4 linked regions of the Homo sapiens genome follow. The gene in region 4 interacts genetically with the main gene of each other region. Each region holds a gene or a part of one and is shown on either strand. Other genes may lie near its edges.

What was found.
Region 1: changes in RPL35 (region 4) and CCT8 together harm fitness less than expected from each alone (positive genetic interaction), as found in Homo sapiens cells (one large-scale study listed by BioGRID).
Region 2: changes in RPL35 (region 4) and WDR36 together harm fitness less than expected from each alone (positive genetic interaction), as found in Homo sapiens cells (one large-scale study listed by BioGRID).
Region 3: changes in RPL35 (region 4) and SF3B1 together harm fitness less than expected from each alone (positive genetic interaction), as found in Homo sapiens cells (one large-scale study listed by BioGRID).

What each region holds. Positions count from the first base shown.
Region 1 is NC_000021.9:29,070,777-29,075,037, reverse strand, and holds the start of CCT8 (T-complex protein 1 subunit theta), read left to right. Parts: upstream 1-1,389; 5' UTR 1,390-1,447; coding exon 1,448-1,507; exon of another isoform or gene 1,508-3,083; coding exon of another isoform or gene 3,084-3,086; intron 3,087-4,261. UniProt on the Homo sapiens protein: Component of the chaperonin-containing T-complex (TRiC), a molecular chaperone complex that assists the folding of actin, tubulin and other proteins upon ATP hydrolysis.
Region 2 is NC_000005.10:111,102,348-111,105,919, forward strand, and holds part of WDR36 (WD repeat-containing protein 36), read left to right. Parts: coding exon 1-52; intron 53-1,438; coding exon 1,439-1,571; intron 1,572-1,829; coding exon 1,830-2,005; intron 2,006-2,349; coding exon 2,350-2,470; intron 2,471-2,947; coding exon 2,948-3,013; intron 3,014-3,572. UniProt on the Homo sapiens protein: Part of the small subunit (SSU) processome, first precursor of the small eukaryotic ribosomal subunit.
Region 3 is NC_000002.12:197,424,957-197,428,528, reverse strand, and holds part of SF3B1 (splicing factor 3B subunit 1), read left to right. Parts: intron 1-3,572. UniProt on the Homo sapiens protein: Component of the 17S U2 SnRNP complex of the spliceosome, a large ribonucleoprotein complex that removes introns from transcribed pre-mRNAs.
Region 4 is NC_000009.12:124,858,325-124,863,843, forward strand, and holds the start of RPL35 (large ribosomal subunit protein uL29), read right to left. Parts: upstream 3,634-5,519; 5' UTR 3,589-3,633; coding exon 3,586-3,588; intron 3,232-3,585; coding exon 3,095-3,231; intron 1,941-3,094; coding exon 1,859-1,940; intron 1-1,858.

The DNA of each region.
Region 1 (4,261 bases), on a different chromosome or scaffold from region 4:
GCCTCAGGAAGCTGACAATCAAGGTGGAAGGTGAAGGGGAAGCAGACACATCCTACAAGGCTGGAGGAGGAGGAAGAGACAGAGTGGGGAGGTGCCACACACTTTTAAACAACCAGGTCTTATGAGAAGTCACTCACTATCACAAGAACAGCTGGGGATTATAATTCCACATCATATTTGGGCAGGCAATTCAAACATATCAGTGGCATTTACATTTTTGCAAAAATCCAAACCATATCAGTGGCATTTACATTTTTGCAATTTTTTTTTTTTTTTGAGACAGGGCCTCACTCTTGCCCAGGCTGGAGTGCAGTGGCATGATCTCAGCTCACTGCTGCCTCAACCTCCCAGGCTCAAGCAGATCCTCCAACCTTAGCCTCCCAAGCAGCTGAGACTACAGGTGCATGCCACCAAGCCAAAGGGATTTATATTTATCTATAAATTCATATATAAATCAGATATATTTATATAAAATGTGTATATTATATATATAAATCAGATAAATAAATATGTATTTATATCTGATCTTAAAAGAGTAAAAGGGATTTATATTCCCAGGAAGAAGTAGAAAAGAGGAATATAGATAGTGGTTAAGAACCGGCATTTTGCAATAAGTCTGATCTAGATAGGAATTCTAGCTTTAATATTTACTAGCTCTGTGATCTTGGGAAAATTATTTACAGTTTGTGAACTTCAGTTTCCCTTCTACAAAATAGAGACAGTACCATTTAATTTTTAATTTTTAATGGTATCGTCTCCATTTTATGGAAGGAAAACTAAATGGTATTTTAACCGACAATTCATTAATTTTTAAGACTGACCATTAACAGAGATACTGCATGTAAAGCAGATCACACAGAATATGGCACACTTGAGCACTTGATGTGTACTACATTACTCTTAGTGACGACTTTAATTATCGTGCGCATTCCCAGCGCTTCCTATGGTGCCCAACACAGAGCGGACGCCTAGAGACAATTTTGGGGGATGGGGCAGATGCTCTGCCTCGGGAAAAAAAAAGCACACCTGCCCTGACGTTGGTGGCTGGGTCTGGAAGATACGTGGAAATTAAGCTAAGGATGTGTGGCTTCCAGATCAAAAACCGCAAAAATCTAACGCCGTGACTACTGACTACGGTCAGAGAGCACAGACTGGAGCAACCTCTCACGGCCTGGGCTGTCTGCGCGTGCGTGAGCCAGAAACCCGAGGGGCTCCCTGGGCCCGCCCTATCGATCGACCCGATCGGGGATCGTCAGCTTGGTTCTGGCCACAGAGGTTGCTCTTCTCGCGATGCTTCAGACCTGGCGGCAGGGAAAGGGTGGGCTAATTGGAGAGCCAGGAAGAGCGTGAGGCGGCCCCACGCTGCTTTCCCAGAAGGCTGTGCGTGCTCCTCGCTTCCTCCGCGGTCTTCCGAGCGGTCGCGTGAACTGCTTCCTGCAGGCTGGCCATGGCGCTTCACGTTCCCAAGGCTCCGGGCTTTGCCCAGATGCTCAAGGAGGGAGCGAAAGTAAGGGCTGAAGGAAAGGAATGAGGTGGGAGCGTCAGCATAGGGCTGCGGCGGCCGCGGCGAAGTAGGAGGGCCTACTAACGGGCTGAGCGTGCTGCCCTGGCTCAGCGGCCGGGGGAAGAGAAGATTCCAGAAAGGGAGGTGATTTTGGAAGGGCTCGGCCACCGGAGCCTGCGGGCACTTCTCTTCTTCCGCGACCGGGAGAAGGCCGAGGGATCGGCGGCACGATCGACATTGTACACCTTGAAGGTGGACGGATGTGAAGCCGCGCGTGCGTTTTGCCTCCATCCGTAAATGGGGCTAAGGCCCGTCACCCTTAAAGGAGGTTGTGAGGGTGAAATTGAATAACGTAGATGAAATTGTCTTGAGAACTGCGACGTCGATTATCACATAGCTCGCGAGTTGTAGGATGGGGAAGAACGAGAACTAGCCGATCCAGAGAAGAGAGTGGGAAAAAGGGCCGGGTCTTGGTTGCTTGCTTCCCAGTGAGAAACATACGGCTTTCAGCTTAGTTGACAGAAGCCATGCGTTGTAGCCAAATGAGTTCCGGTCCCAACTTATGTTAGCTGGCTTAATCTAAAATGTAACTTTCTTGGGTTTTGTTTCCTTCGTCTTTAAATTATGGAGATTGGACCAAGAGGTGGTGTCTTTGAGTTCTGTGTAATCTGCAGGATAAGTGATAGAGGGGTGCAGATAACACTTTTGTTTAATGGCCTTTTCTTGAACGTTAGTTCGGTAGCATAGTTTTAAAAAATATCTTACTGCACTATTGATAAATTTGTCTCTTGTGCTATTCAAATTGCATTCCTCTGTGTGTCCTCCAGATTTTGTTAATTCAAGAAATAGATCAGTGTGGTTGAATTTAAGGTTTTATGCGAGGTACGGGGAGCATTAACAGTTTAATAGAACTAGGTTCATGTTTGTAGGATGCACTTTTCAAATAATGTCGGTATAGTAAGTAAATGTCAGGGTTCAAGGTAAATGTTGGTGGAATAATCTTTTGAAAATGATATGGGCTGATTCCCTTGAAAAAATCAGGCTGAGATAATAGCTTCCAATTTGGGTTTTTTTCACTAATACAGTTTTGGAAAACTCGTGTATCACAAAACATTATTTGTCATTCCAGTGCTAGTAGTTTTTTACAGAACACTGAGCTATTTCTTTCAATAAATAGGTACTGAAGGAACTGCAGTGAAAGACAAAAGTCCCATTTGTCGTAGAGTTTATGTCCTTCTAAGGCAGAAATAATGATTAAATAAAAGGAGAATTCCAAATAATGATGAAAGAAACTGCACTATAGTAGAGGATGACAGGAGGTAAAAATGTCTGTAAAAGAAGGATCAGGAATAGACAGAACACTTAGACGTTTAGGGAAGAACTCTTAGCTCAGTGCTTAGTGAGAGAAGCCCCTGAGCCTGGGCTGTTTCCCCCGACCTCTTACTTAGGGGGAAATGCCAGGCTCAGGGACTAACTAGTACAAAGACCCTGAGGAAGGAATGATTTTGACCTGTTTTTTTTTTAAAACAACAACAACAACAACAGGTTGTAGGGCTGAAGCTTACCAAAGAAAGGAAGAATGGTAAGTTCAGAGGAGGAGCCATACAAGGGCCGGGATACGTAGGGCCTTGTTTCCTTGAAAAGGGATTTGCATTTTATCCTAAGCTGGTTGGGAAACCATTGAAGGGTCTTAAGTATGGGAATGAGGGGATCTGATCAAATGGTAGTTTCTCACAGAATGGGGAGTGAGGGGAAGAAGCAAGAGTGTAAGCCAGGAGTTCAGACTTAAGTGTTATTGCTGGAATAACAGTTCTTATTGCTGAAGATGCTTTTAAAGCAGTGGCTATTGGCAGGGGTTGGTGGCTCACACCTGTAATCCCAACACTGGGGAGGCCGAGGTCAGTGGATCACTTGAGGCCAGGAGTTCCTGGCCAACATGGTGAAACTCCGCCTCTCAAAAAAATACAAAAAAAACCAACCTGGTGTGGCGCGCACCTCTAATCCCAGCTACTCAGGAGGCTGAGCCTCCAGAATTGCTTGAACCCGGGAGGCCCAGGTTGCAGTGAGCTGAGATCGTGCCACGATCTCAGCTCACTGCACTCCAGCCTGAGCGATAGAGGAGACTCTCTCTCTCTCAAAAAAGAGTAATGGCTATTAACCTTGGTTTTGGATCACAAAATCATGGCTTGTATTGTAAAGCAGTACTATGTAAATAGAACTTTTTGCAGTGCTGGACATACGCTGTATCAGCGCTGTCCAGTGTGATATTCACTACCCACATGTAGCTACTGGGCATTTGAACTGTGGCTCCTGCAATTGAGGAACTGAATTTTTTAATTTTAATTACTTGAAAGTTTATTTTGATTGCTTTCACTAGCCCCATGTATGTAGCTAGTGGCTACTGTATTGGGCAGCGCTTCTCTAAAGAAATGTTCTCATGCACAGTAGATTAGTGAAATATATCTGAGGACCCAAGTAAACCTCAACTCTAAAAAAGTCCAGTGTAGAATTTGTGAGAATTTTTAGTACCGTGAGCAGTTCGCTTTTCAATACATATACATTGGGATAATGTTGCAATTCAAAAAAAGTATTCAGTCTCTAAACACTTCAGTGGCACATACTTAAAGAACTTCTGGCTTTACAAAAGCCCAGATTCTAACACAATAAGAATATTCCACATTTCAACAGTTAGTTAGAAAATACTGATAAATTCTGGAAAGGTATTCTACTTGAAGTACCTCATACCCTTTCTCTAAT
Region 2 (3,572 bases), on a different chromosome or scaffold from region 4:
ACTTCTATATACATTTCCAGGATGGAAAGTTGGAGTGACAGCTCTTCAGCAGGTTAGTATTTTTCTGTTAAGTCAAAGAGGAACAAAGTTAATAGGAAAATCCTTCAGTTTCAGGAATCAATCATAATTTTAGACGTAAAGACGAAACAATATATAGCTTAGTTTACCTTTAAAATTGTTAGCCTGAGGAAATAGTGTTTTGGAAATGTAAGTTAAAACAAGTAATAATGCCTTTGCCAATAACACTTATTGGAGTCCTTTGTGCTTATAGTTTGACTTAAATCTGTGGTTGCTATGGATCCTTGTTTCTAATCATTTTGCAAGTATATGTAGTCCATTGTCTTGTGTAGACTGGAAATGAGTGTTCAGCAATGCAAGCGGTATTGTAAGTCATGTAGAGAAATTTGTCAAGATGTTGAGATTTATGGTTTGAAGTAATTGGAGCCAAAATCCTAATGTTTGATTCGATGATGGACTATTTAAGAAATAACTGCTTTTTTTTAATGAATCTGCAAAATATGTATAAATAAATGAATGCATGTCTACAGCGAATCTTGTGTTTATATTGGCCACATATGTAGCCACTATACCCTTATCTTTTTCAGTATCCATTGTCTATACTTGCCCAATTTATATGTATTCCTTATCTTCTCTTGCTGTCATCAGCCTAGCTCCACTTTTGCCTATCCAGAAGACTCCATAAGTATCAGAGGATTAGGACCCTTGAGGACAAGGGATTATATCTGTTTTAGTATCTCCAATTTCTACACAGGGTCTCATGCATAGTAGACACTTGATGACAAATTAATAAAACGTGTAGCCTGATTCCATTCTATAATGATATTGGACATTGATCTTTGCTAAAATAGAGAAATTCATAATAGAGCCTGTATGTAAGACTTGTATTATAGACCATTATAACCATAGAATATTAGAACTGGAACAGACTAATTGTAAAACTTTTTTTGCCTTTTCACATGTTTTGTAGGTTTTTCCTACTTTCTTGGATAAGCAATTCTTCACTTCCTTTGTAATTGGTTACATGTTGCCACACATAGCGCAAGCCTTTATGTTTTCTAGTTGTCTCCTTTTTCTGTTTCCATCCAGTCCAGTGATCTGTAGTGATTTTATACATAGCTTTCTTTTTCTGTTGTGGTTGTTTTCTTTCCAAAATCTTACCAGCTAGGTTTTGGGAATGAGGATGGGATGTTGACTGGCAGAATTGAAGCTGGGAAGTAATTTGGAAAAATCATTACTGAATACTTCTATGCTGAATAAAAAAGTATGCTTGAATGGTAATACTTGCTGAGTTTTTCTGCCATCTTTTAGAAGATACTTCATTATTTCTTTTGATAACACCTAATAATGATGCGTATCATCAGGATTATTAAAGCTATTTTGCTTAAGAAAGTAAAAGTTTGAATAATTTAATTTTTAGGCACCAGCCGTGGATGTTGTTGCTATTGGTCTTATGTCAGGTCAAGTTATCATTCACAACATTAAATTTAATGAAACATTAATGAAGTTTCGTCAAGACTGGGGACCCATTACTTCAATTTCATTTCGCACAGGTAACTTTTAACATACTTATTGATAGGAGTTAAGAACACTTAAAATTCATTACTTTAAAAGTCAATTTTTTTTGTCTTCTGGTAGCTTAATCTAATAGAAGTGAATGAATACTGGAGTAAAAGGCAAAGAAATATGAATAGATTATTGGTATATAGTTTTTTTCTAACTTTATGGATTAAAAGGGAAGAGAGAAGAATTCTTGTTTATTTTGGGGGATCTAGAAGTATTTTTCTTAATGTATTTTATTTTAATAACAGATGGTCATCCAGTAATGGCAGCTGGAAGCCCATGTGGCCATATTGGACTCTGGGATCTAGAAGACAAAAAATTAATCAACCAAATGAGAAATGCACACTCTACAGCAATTGCCGGACTGACATTTCTCCATAGAGAGCCACTTCTTGTCACAAATGGCGCTGACAATGCTCTTAGGGTATTATGATTATTGTTAACATCTTCCTGGCTCATCTAACTTACCCTTTGGGTTATTACAAGCTTGTTTTAATGTATCAGCTTTCAACCTAGAAGATGAAAGGAATATGGAATGAGATATTGGTATAGATGAAACAAAAAGCACAGCAGGTGACATGATTGCAGTGAAGCGGGAAAGAATTACAGTTTATTTCTCCCCCAATACCCACTCCCTCCCTTGTAGCTCCAGAGTCAGTGGCTTAGCAAGCACTACTCAATACCAGTTGATTTATGTAGGGGGTGATTTGACTGCTTGCAGATCAGATGGAACATTGTAGAAGAACTGACGTTTTTATTTCTTGGCAGATATGGATATTTGATGGTCCTACAGGTGAAGGCCGACTTTTGAGATTCAGAATGGGTCATAGTGCTCCTCTTACCAATATCAGATATTATGGACAGAATGGACAGCAGATTCTAAGTGCAAGTGAGCTTCTGCTTCATACTATTAGTTTATTTCAGCAAGTATTGAGATGTGGGTGCCCAGTATGAGGTTTGATATTTACACATACTTAGATTCACATATCTCTTTGAGTGACTTAGAAGTCTGGGTAAAACTAAGAGTCCTTTTTGTCTACTTGAGAAGCACTATAGATGTTATTATCTATGCTTAATGTGTCCTTCTATTTACTAATCCTCAGAGACAGAATGGTTAGATTCTAAAAATTCTGTTAGTCTGCTGAAAATTATTAGTACCTCATTTTCATTTTATCCTTTGTTCTTACTAAATGGCATTCTATAAAAAGTTGAATATTTTAATGAAGTAGTTGCAATCTGGTTTTCCCTTTAAAGTGTCCCAAACTGTAACTTCAAGATTTTCAAATTGAATTTTATAAAATTTGTGATTCACATAGTCCCTTGTTTTAATGAAGCTTGATTAGGGATTTTCTGTGTATATCAACAGGTCAAGATGGAACTCTTCAGTCATTTTCCACGGTACATGAAAAATTCAATAAGAGCTTGGGACATGGTAGGTCCTCTACAAGACAAAATAAGCTGGTCACGAAAGAAACATTTCAACATTCTATGAAACAACTGGAGGAAGTTTCATCAATGCATTTTATTTTTTCTTGGATGAACTAGATAAACATGTATGGAAGAGGTAGTAAGATTCCTAGCATCAAAGTTGCTATAGAAGTGATTGAGGTTCTGCTATAAGGTTATTGAAAAAAGTTAGACATCTTGGGTGGTAAAAACATACTGCTGCCACCCAAAAGATGTTCATGGCCTCACTTGAGCTATCTGTAGAGTGCACAGTTTTTAAAATGGAAGGTAGCTTAGAGAAAGCATCAAAGTAAGTGGCATCCAATATTTTTGCTTTAAAGCAATCATTTATTCTCTTTCCCTTTTCATGGTTTCCAGCCTTTGAAAGATTTTGTTTATTAAACAACAAAATCTTACTTGGTTTTATGATTACTAATTTTTAAGTTACTATCTTATACTGTTCATGCATGTATATAAATTTTAAGATTATTTTTAACAATATCTAAAATAACTTTTCTTAGAATTAAAAAATAACAGTGGTAATA
Region 3 (3,572 bases), on a different chromosome or scaffold from region 4:
ATTATAGGAATACTTACACACCAGGCTGTAACTTAGTGTTGGTTTTGAAAATACGGAGTTAGAGACAACATTGTTATTCCCAGAGATAAAAAATTTGAAGTGGAATTTTACAAACCTTGGCTGGCATGGATAGGGGAGAGAAAAATTTGGAAAATTACTTTTAATTACTTCTACAGATTACCTATTTATTTATTTACTTACTTATTTAGAGGCAAGGCCTGGCTCTAACACCCAGGCTAGAGTGCAGTGGTGTGATCTCAGCTCACTGCAACCTCCGCCTCCTGGGCTCAAGCCATCCTCTGACCTCAGCCTCCTGAGTATCTGGGACTACAGGTGTGCACCTGTAGTGACTAATTTTTGTATTTTTGTCTAATTTTTGTAGAGACAGGGTTTCATCATGTTGCTTAGGCTGGCCTTGAACTTGTGAACTCAAGTGATCTGCCTGCCTGGGCATCCCAAAGTGCCCAGCCTCATTACCTTTTAATTAATTAATTAATTAATTAATTAATTTGAGACGGAGTCTTGCTCTGTCGCCTAGGTTGGAGTGCAGTGGTGCGATCTCGGCTCACTGCATCCTCTGCCTCTTGGGTTCAAGCAATTCTCTGACTCAGCCTCCTGAGTAGCTGGGATTCCAGGCACCCACCACCACACCTGGCTAATTTTTATATTTTTAGTAGAGATGGGGTTTCACCATCTTGGCCAGGCTGATCCTGAACTCCTGACCTCGTGATCCACCCGCCTCGGCCTCCCAAAGTGCTGGGATTACAGGCGTGAGCCACCATGCCCGGCCCAGATTACCTTTTATGAAATATTTTAACATGCAGAAGAGAATAGGACAAAATATAATGAACACTAACCCACTGCTCAGCTTTATCAGTTCTTCATTTTCTGCCGTATTTTTTCCCACCTTTTTATTTATTTTGAAAACGAAACCTCAGACACAAAGTTACCTTATTTATGAATGTCATGGTAATAATTTGTTTGCTCATAAATATTTGGGTATGTTATATTTGGTATTTTAGCACATAGTTTATTAAGAAATTTCTGAGTTTTTAGTTCTCTGAATTGCATAATAAGCTGCTGAGTTTTATGGAATCTGACGGCTTAATTTTATGGATCACATGGTGTATGTGTAAATGTGCTGCAGTTTGCAGTGTGTTAACAAAGCCCATTAAGCTGTTTGGACTTTATATCTATAGTTTCCAGCAGACAGAAAACAATGCCTGATTTGCATATAAACATTTAATTGTACTGCCTATAAGAAGTTCAGTAATATACTCACCTTAGGATTAATTAACTACAAACAGCTGCCTAGCCCCAGGAGATTTTGGGCTGGGTAATTTTGTTACTAAATTTTAATAAGAACCTAGTCATGATTTACATAGATTTCATACCAACACTATTTCAGTACTTTATGAACCTTTGTAATTGGAAAACTCTGATGCTAATCAGCAGGTACATAAAATCAATAGTTAAAATTCAGTAGCTGAAATTAGTTCCAGAATAAGTGTTATCCAAATGAGAAACTAGTTGCTGAAACTTCAGGATGGAAAAGTTGTTTAGATGGAAAATAAGAGAGATGCCTGATAAGGGGGAAAAAGCAAGTTGCACAATATGTGTAGTGTGCAGTTTTTATAAAACAGCACCCCTTTCCTGTTTTTTAGTTGTGTATGAGGTAGAGAAAAGTATAAAATGATGCTCTAAATTGGAAAATTTGGTAGGGGTGGGCTGGGGTTGGAAATGGGAGGGGTGAAGGGCCAGGTAAAATAGTTTCCTAGGGTGTTTGTTAATGATGCAGAATCCTGGGCTTCACAGCCTGAGTTGGAGTTTCAGAGTTAGTGTATCCAAGACCTAAGGTTCTACCTTTGTAACAGGTGCACCAGGTCATTTCTTTGTAGGTGGTCCTTATACTAGACTAATGCTGTAGAGGAGATTGCAGACTATTTCTCCTGATTCATCCATTTGTTTCTTACCTAAATCCTCATGGAAGTAGCATTTGTGGTCCTTTTACAAAAACCTATTTAGGTAAAAGTGATAAATGCACCTGTGGTTTAAAAAAAAAGCCTGAAGCTGGGCGTGGTGGTGGGCATCTATAATCCCAACTATTTGGGAGGCTGAGGCAGGAGAATGGCTTGAACCTGGGAGGCGGAGGTTGCAGTGAGCCGAGATCCAGCCACTGCACTCCAGCCTGGGCAACAAGAGCAAAACTCCGCCTCAAAAAAAGAAAAGAAAAGAAGATGCCCGAAGGGGGTGGGAGTGGGGCAAATGTAGATTAAATTTTTCAAAATATGAAACTACAAACAGAAACAAAAGTAGAGATCATAGTAAAAAGAACCACCCTGCTCATGTGAGGATATTTCTGGCTGCCTGGGCTGCTATAATGGTTTGGGGACAAAGTAACATCTGTGCATGTAGTGGTGCTGTGTAACACAACACACTATAATAATTTTGAGATCCGATCACAACTGGGGCTGCTAAACTCAGCATTAAAACTATTCTATCATTTTGAGTTTCTTTCTTTCTGTTTGTTTCTGAGACAGTCTCTCTCTCATCCAGGCTGGAGTGCAGTGGCAGCAATCGTGGCTTACTGCAGCCTTGACCTCCTGGGCTCAAACAGTCCTCCCACCTGAGCCCCCTAAGTGGCAGGGGACTATAGGTTTGCCACCATACCTGGCTAATTTTAGTATTTTTTGTAGAGATAGGGTTTTGCCATGTCGCCCAGGCTGGTTTTGAACTCCTGGGCTCAAGTGATCCGCCCACCTCAGCCTTCCAAAGTGTTTGGATGACATGCGTGAGCTACCGCGTCTGCCTCCAGTTTGTGAGACGTGCTCCTGTTCCTTTCTTATGTGGAAATGTGACCCAGCCGTGCCTTAGACTAGATAAGGACATTTTGTTATCCTGCACATCTATCTTGAGGAACTATAGAGGGCTTTCTCCCTTAGCTGGGGGGGTGGGAGGTTTTGCAAATACAGGATGCTATTTGAATCTTTATCTTTTGATTCATGCAGCTAGCAATTGAGCTTTTTTATTTTTTATTTGATTTATTTATCTATTTATTTTTTGAGACGGAGTTTCGCTCTTGTCGCCCAGGCTGGAGTGCAATGGCGTGATCTCGACTTACTGCAACCTCCACCTTCCGGGTTCATGTGATTCTCCTGCCTCAGCCTCCCGAGTAGCTGGGATTACAGGCGCCTGCCACCATGCCCGGCTAATTTTTGTATTTTTAGTAGAGACGGGGTTTTAGCACATTGGCCAGGCTGGTCTTGAACTCCTGACCTCAGGTGATCTGCCCACCTCGGCCTCCCGAAGTGCTGGGATTGCAGGTGTGAGCCACTGCGCCCGGCCTAATTTTTATTCATTTATTTATTTATTTGAGATGAGTTTTGCTCTTTGCCCAGGCTAAAGTGCAGTGGCACGTGATCTCGGCTCACTGCAGCCTTGGCCTCCCGGGTTCAAGCAGTTCTGCCTCAGCCTCCTGAGTAGCTGGGACTAGAGGCGTGCGCCATTACACCTGGCTAACTTTGTATTTTTACTGGAGAGGAGGTTTCACCATCTTGGCTAGGCTGGTCTCG
Region 4 (5,519 bases):
CTTGCATCTCAGTCAAGTGACTCCCAACTCAGTGCTCCTTCCACTGCCCGATTCCCAGTCACGAGGACAGTCACATGACAACCTAGTACAGGGCACGCAGCACCCACCAAGCCCCGGGGGTAGTTACCATTACCTCGGCTCTGGTTAGCAAGAGCATGCTGGGGGCTGAGGCAGTACTCTGTCCATCTGTATGCAGGGCCCACCAGCTGCTGCCTGTATGAACGTCCAGCCTCAGAGGCCTGGCTGGCCAAGGCCACTTGCCCCACCTGCTTCCGGCTTTGGGGCCCCTGCCCACAGCTGTCACAGAGCCATCATCTGTCTTTCCATCCTTGGCTCCCACTCCTGCCCCACTTGTTCTCCAGCAGGGGGTTCTAGACCATGGCAGCTCTCACTGGTCTCTCCTGTGTTCTGCAAAGGTCCCCTGGGCCCCCTTCAGGACTGGGCCCTGTGCTGGGAGCTGGCTTGGCAAAGGATCTGACCCAGTCCCTGCTCAGGGGTCCCAGCCTAGTGGGGGAAGACTGAACAGGTAACAAGTGGCCCATGGTATGGGGGATTCTGAGGTCACAGGGCCCCAGGCCCCTGCAGGTGGGCAGAGGACTGCAGAAAGATCCTGGACAATGAGGGCCAGCCCTGGAGGGTACTTGGAAGCAGGAAAGTCTTTGTCCTCCCACATCCCTCACTCCTGCTGGCATCGGCTGGGCATTCGTCCTTTTCACATTGGCTAACCCCCTAGAGTTCTGCTGTCCAACAGAGCAGCCACTAGCCACACACGTAGCTGCTGACATTAAAGGTTTACTTTTGCCACACACGTGCTAGTGTCCCCTGAACAGCTAACATAGCCACACTATGGCCCTTCTCATTTTTTTGAGATGAGGCCTCACTATGTTGCCCAGGCTACACTTTAACTCCTGGGCTCAAGCCATCCTCCTGCCTCGGCCTCCCAGTAGCTGGGGTTATAGGCCTGTGGCACTTCATCAGCCATGGCTGCTTTTCCCTTGTGTCAAATCTTCAAGTTATTCAAACACAATTTGGGTAGTGATGTGGAACCATTTTGCAGATGAAATTAAAGACCCTCATCAGGTAACTTTAGGGGAGATTATCCTGGGTAATCCCAGAAGGCCCGATCCAATCAGCTGTAAGTCTTAAGCACAGGGCTGAGGCTCCCTCCAAGTACCCACTGGGAACAGCAGCTTCAACCTGAGCCCTGAGTCCCAGCCAGCCCCCACAATCACCTATGCCCATTCTTCAGAATACATTGGATGCATGTGCACACACCGTCTCCCCCTAGTTTTCTCTGCTTGAACCCCAATAAGATGAATGTTAAGGACAAGACCAGAAAATGGTTATCAAAATTCAAGACTAAGAGGGGGCCAGACACCTGTGCACACCTCCCAGAACACTAAAGCCGACCCTCCCCAAGGTAAGGTTTGGAACCAGGGCCCATCATGCCATTGACTGTGGGTGTCTAGGCCTCAGGGCCCTCATCTGAAAAATGAGCATGGCAGGTGCCTGGCAGGGACTGACACCCAGTGCCAGTAAGAGGCAGTGAAAACCTTCAACAGCCAGTCCTATCACTGCCCAAGCCACTCAACTGGGAAGGCTGGTTTCAAAAACTGAGTCTCCAGCCAGGACACCCCAAGCCCCAATGAATTCTTGACATCTGCAGCCTGAGGAAGTGGTCTGCAGAGCCACGTGCCAGTGCAAGACACTGGTAGAAGAGTGAGCCCAGCAACAAATTGGGAAGGCTAACCACTCTCAGCCCACGCACCAAGAAAAACCTCTTTACCATGTCCCCGGCCAGGGACGGCTAGCACTTGGCTTCCTGCAGCCAACCCTCCCTATGTCCAGGCAGACTCACCTTGTAGAATTTCCTGAGGTTTTCTTTCTGAGTCTGGTTAATAACTGTGAGAACACGGGCAATGGATTTCCGGACGACTCGGCTACAAAACAGAGATGTCAGTGAAGATAGGGAAGACACATAGCACTACCCAAGACTCAGGACTCACACATAGGGCAGCAATAGCTGCAGCCTCCCCCATCAACCCATCCATATTCACTCAGGAGGAAGGCGTTCTGGGAGTGAGGTCTGAGGAGGGAAGAGAGGGGCATGGGAGAGACAGCAGAGGCTTTATGAGGAAGTGCAGGCTGGATAAATGAGGCAGATCAGAAAAAGACCTTCAATCCCAGAACACGAATTTATCCTGAGGGCTAAGACCCAACCAATGCCAATTTCAATGAGCTGATGGGAAGGAATCATGCCACAAACCAGGCAATCAGGCTAGCTTAGGGAACTGCAGGAGAGAGAAACAAGACATTTGCAAAGTGGAGTCACTACAAGCCAGGAGACTGAAGCAAACAACGAGCCAGGGAGAAGTTATTTGTAGTCATGTCAGGATGAGGGAGTCACCTAGTAGACAGCTGGTCAACATGGTTTTTGAGGATTCAGTGTGCAACTGTGCTTGTCCAATCCTCCCACCCCTGCCTCTACTAAGGTTGTTTGGGGGCAAAGAGGGCAACCACCATTTTTTTTTTTTGGAGACAGGGTCTCACCTGTCAACCAGACTGAAGAGCAGTGGCCCCATCATAGCCTCCCAACTCCTGGGCTCAAGTGATCCTCCTGCCTCAGCCTCCAGAGTAGCTGGGACTACAGGCCTGTACCACCACACCCATCTAATTTTTTTTTGAGAAGTGGACTTTGTACCCAGGTTGATGAACTCCAAACCCATGTTCCTTTCACAAGTCTCCCGCACTCTTAGCCATGTAAAATAACTTACGCTGCCACTCCAGGGTGCAAGCCACCCACCTGCCAAGGGGGTTAAAAACTCAAGTGTTGGTGGGAAGCGGAAGGAAGGGGTCCGGGTAGGCTTTGAAGGCAGCATTAAGATGGGTCTCCGGGGATGCATTCCAGGCACAAGGACCGCAAGGTCAAGGCAGGTAAGAGGCTAAGCACACAACGGGTCTCCCATGCGCGCCAGGATGCACGGAGTGGGCATCTAAGCGGCCAGCTCCTTAAGCCAACTTTGAAATCCTCCGACGATCCCGATGCACACGTGCTCCCCACCCACGAGGGCTGTGATCCGGCCGCCTCACTTACATCTTAGAGAGCTTGGAGGCCGCACCGCCTGTCACTTTGGCGACGCGCAGCTGGGACAGCTCCACCTTCAGGTCGTCCAGCTGTTTCAGCAGCTCCTCCTTCTTCTTCCCGCGAAGATCTCGAGCCTTGATCTTGGCCTGCGCGCAAGAGAGAGTGTGCCTCAGCCAGGCCGCGGGGCCATATCCCCTTCACCTGCGTGGCCAGCCCCCAAAGGCGCGCGACTCGCCATCGACTACGAGTGCGCCGGAGCCCCAACCAGGGCTCAGGACAGTCTCCCTCGCCGGCCGTGCCTTGGGCAGAGTAACCCAGGCCCGGGCCGCGCGCCTCTCCCGGCGCCAAGCGAAGAGGCGGGTTGTGGTGGCGCCAGACCATTCTGCGCGGCGCCCCACAGGCCTAGGTGGCAGATAGAATCCGCGGGCTCAGCCCGCACCGCCTTCCCCAACCCCCGCGCCTCACAGCGCTCGGATGGCGCCCGATTCCGCAGCTCTCACCATTGCTGCACAAGCCGCCAACGCCGCCGCCCGCTCCGAGGGAAAGAGGAAGTAGGCGGGGCTGACCTCCGCAACTACTGCCGGGTGGCGGCGGGCGCGGCCAATGGCGCCGCAGCGGGGGAGCCCCGGCTCCGCCTCATCTCCCCCGCCCCCGAGGAACGCCGTGGTACTGCCCGCCCCGCCTGGTAGGGCCGGAGCCCCGCCTTGTAGTGCTCGCCTCATTCACGGCACCCCTGATAGCGAGGTCGGCGTCACGGTGTAGGCGCGCAGTTGGGGAAACCGAGGCCCAACGTGGGCGGCAGCTACCAGAGATGGCACACGGAGGACTCAAATTCGTCCATTCAGTCATTCGTTCATTCATTCCTTCGGGAAACCTTGCAGATCTCCCAATCTGGGCAACTCTGAGCTGGGCGCCAGTAGTCTGGGGGTGCTGACGGGAGGAGGGGCCAGAGTTTTCAAAGACGATTAACCGAGGCTCACGTCGCGGAGGAATTTAAAGCGCGAGATGGACGGGAGGGGCGGGCTCAGGCAGTTATAATCCAACTCCATAAAGGTTCTGGGGAGGCAGTATATGGAACTGCAAAGAGCATTTACACCTTTTTTTTTTTTTTTTTTTTTGAGACAGAGCTTCATTCTGTCGCCCAGGGTGCCAGGCTGGAGTGCAGTGTCGCGATCTCGGCTTACTGCAACCTCCGCCTCCCGGGTTCAGCGATTCTCCTGCCCCAGCCTCCCGAGTAGCTGAGTAGCTGGGATTACAGGCATGCACCACCACGCCTGGCTAATTTTTTGTATTTTTAGTAGAGACGGGGTTTCGCCATGTTGCCCAGGCTGATCTTGAACTCCTCAGCTCAGGTGATCCCCTCGCCTCGGCCTCCCAAAGTGCTGGGATTACAGGCGTGAGCCACCACGCCTGGCCCCAGCCTTTATTTATTTTTTTTATTTTTTAATTTTTTTTTTCAGACAGGGTCTCGCTCTGTCACCCTGGCTGGAAGGCATGGCGCGCTCTCCGCCCACCAAAACCTCCGCTTCCCGGGTTCAAGCAGCCCTCCCACCTCAGTCTCCCGAGTAGCTGAAACTACAGGCACAAGCCACCAGGCCTGGCTAATTTGTTTATTTTTTGTAGAGCTGTTGCCCAGGGTGGTCTCCTGGGCTCAAGCAATCCGCCCTCCTCGGCCTCCCAGAGTGCCTAGGATTACAGGGGTTAGCCACCTCGCCTGGCCATACAGCCTTTTTTATTTTTATTTTATTTTTTATATATTTTTTGAGATGGAGTCTGGCTCTGTCGCCTAGGCTGGAGTGCAGTGGCGCGATCTCGGCTCACTGCAACCTCCACCTCCCGGGTTCAAGAGATTCTCCTGCCTTGGCCTCCCCAGTAACTGGGACTACAGGTGTGTGCCACTACACCCAGCTAAATTTTTGTATTTTTAGTAGAGACAAGGTTTAGCCAGGCTGGTCTCAAACCCCTGACCTCAAGTGATCCACCCGCCTCAGCCTCCCAAAATACTGGGATTACAGGTGTGAGCCACTGCGCCCGGCTAGTACAGCCTTTTTTAAAGTGAACCTGACCAGGTTTCAAATTCTTGCTCTGCTGCCAAGGTAGTAGTTGAGACTCTTGGGAAATCTCTTCCCCTTTCTTGAGTCTCAGTTTGCTCACATGTGAAATGAGGCATTTATGAGAATTAGAGGAGATATCTGTAAAGCTGTTAACCCGAAATCTGACGCATAACAATGGCTCAAAATATCATTGGTGTTCATGTTCCCAGAGGAAGGAACACTTCAGTAGAGCCCGGAAAGTGAAACGGGAATTCACAAGGCAGGGCATGTTTAGGCTTTCTGATTAATGTCTGCCAACCAGTAGGCATTAATCAGCACTCCAGTGCCACTCCCTTGCCCTTAATAAAGACATGCCACCTCTTAGAGTTATGGTTGAAGCC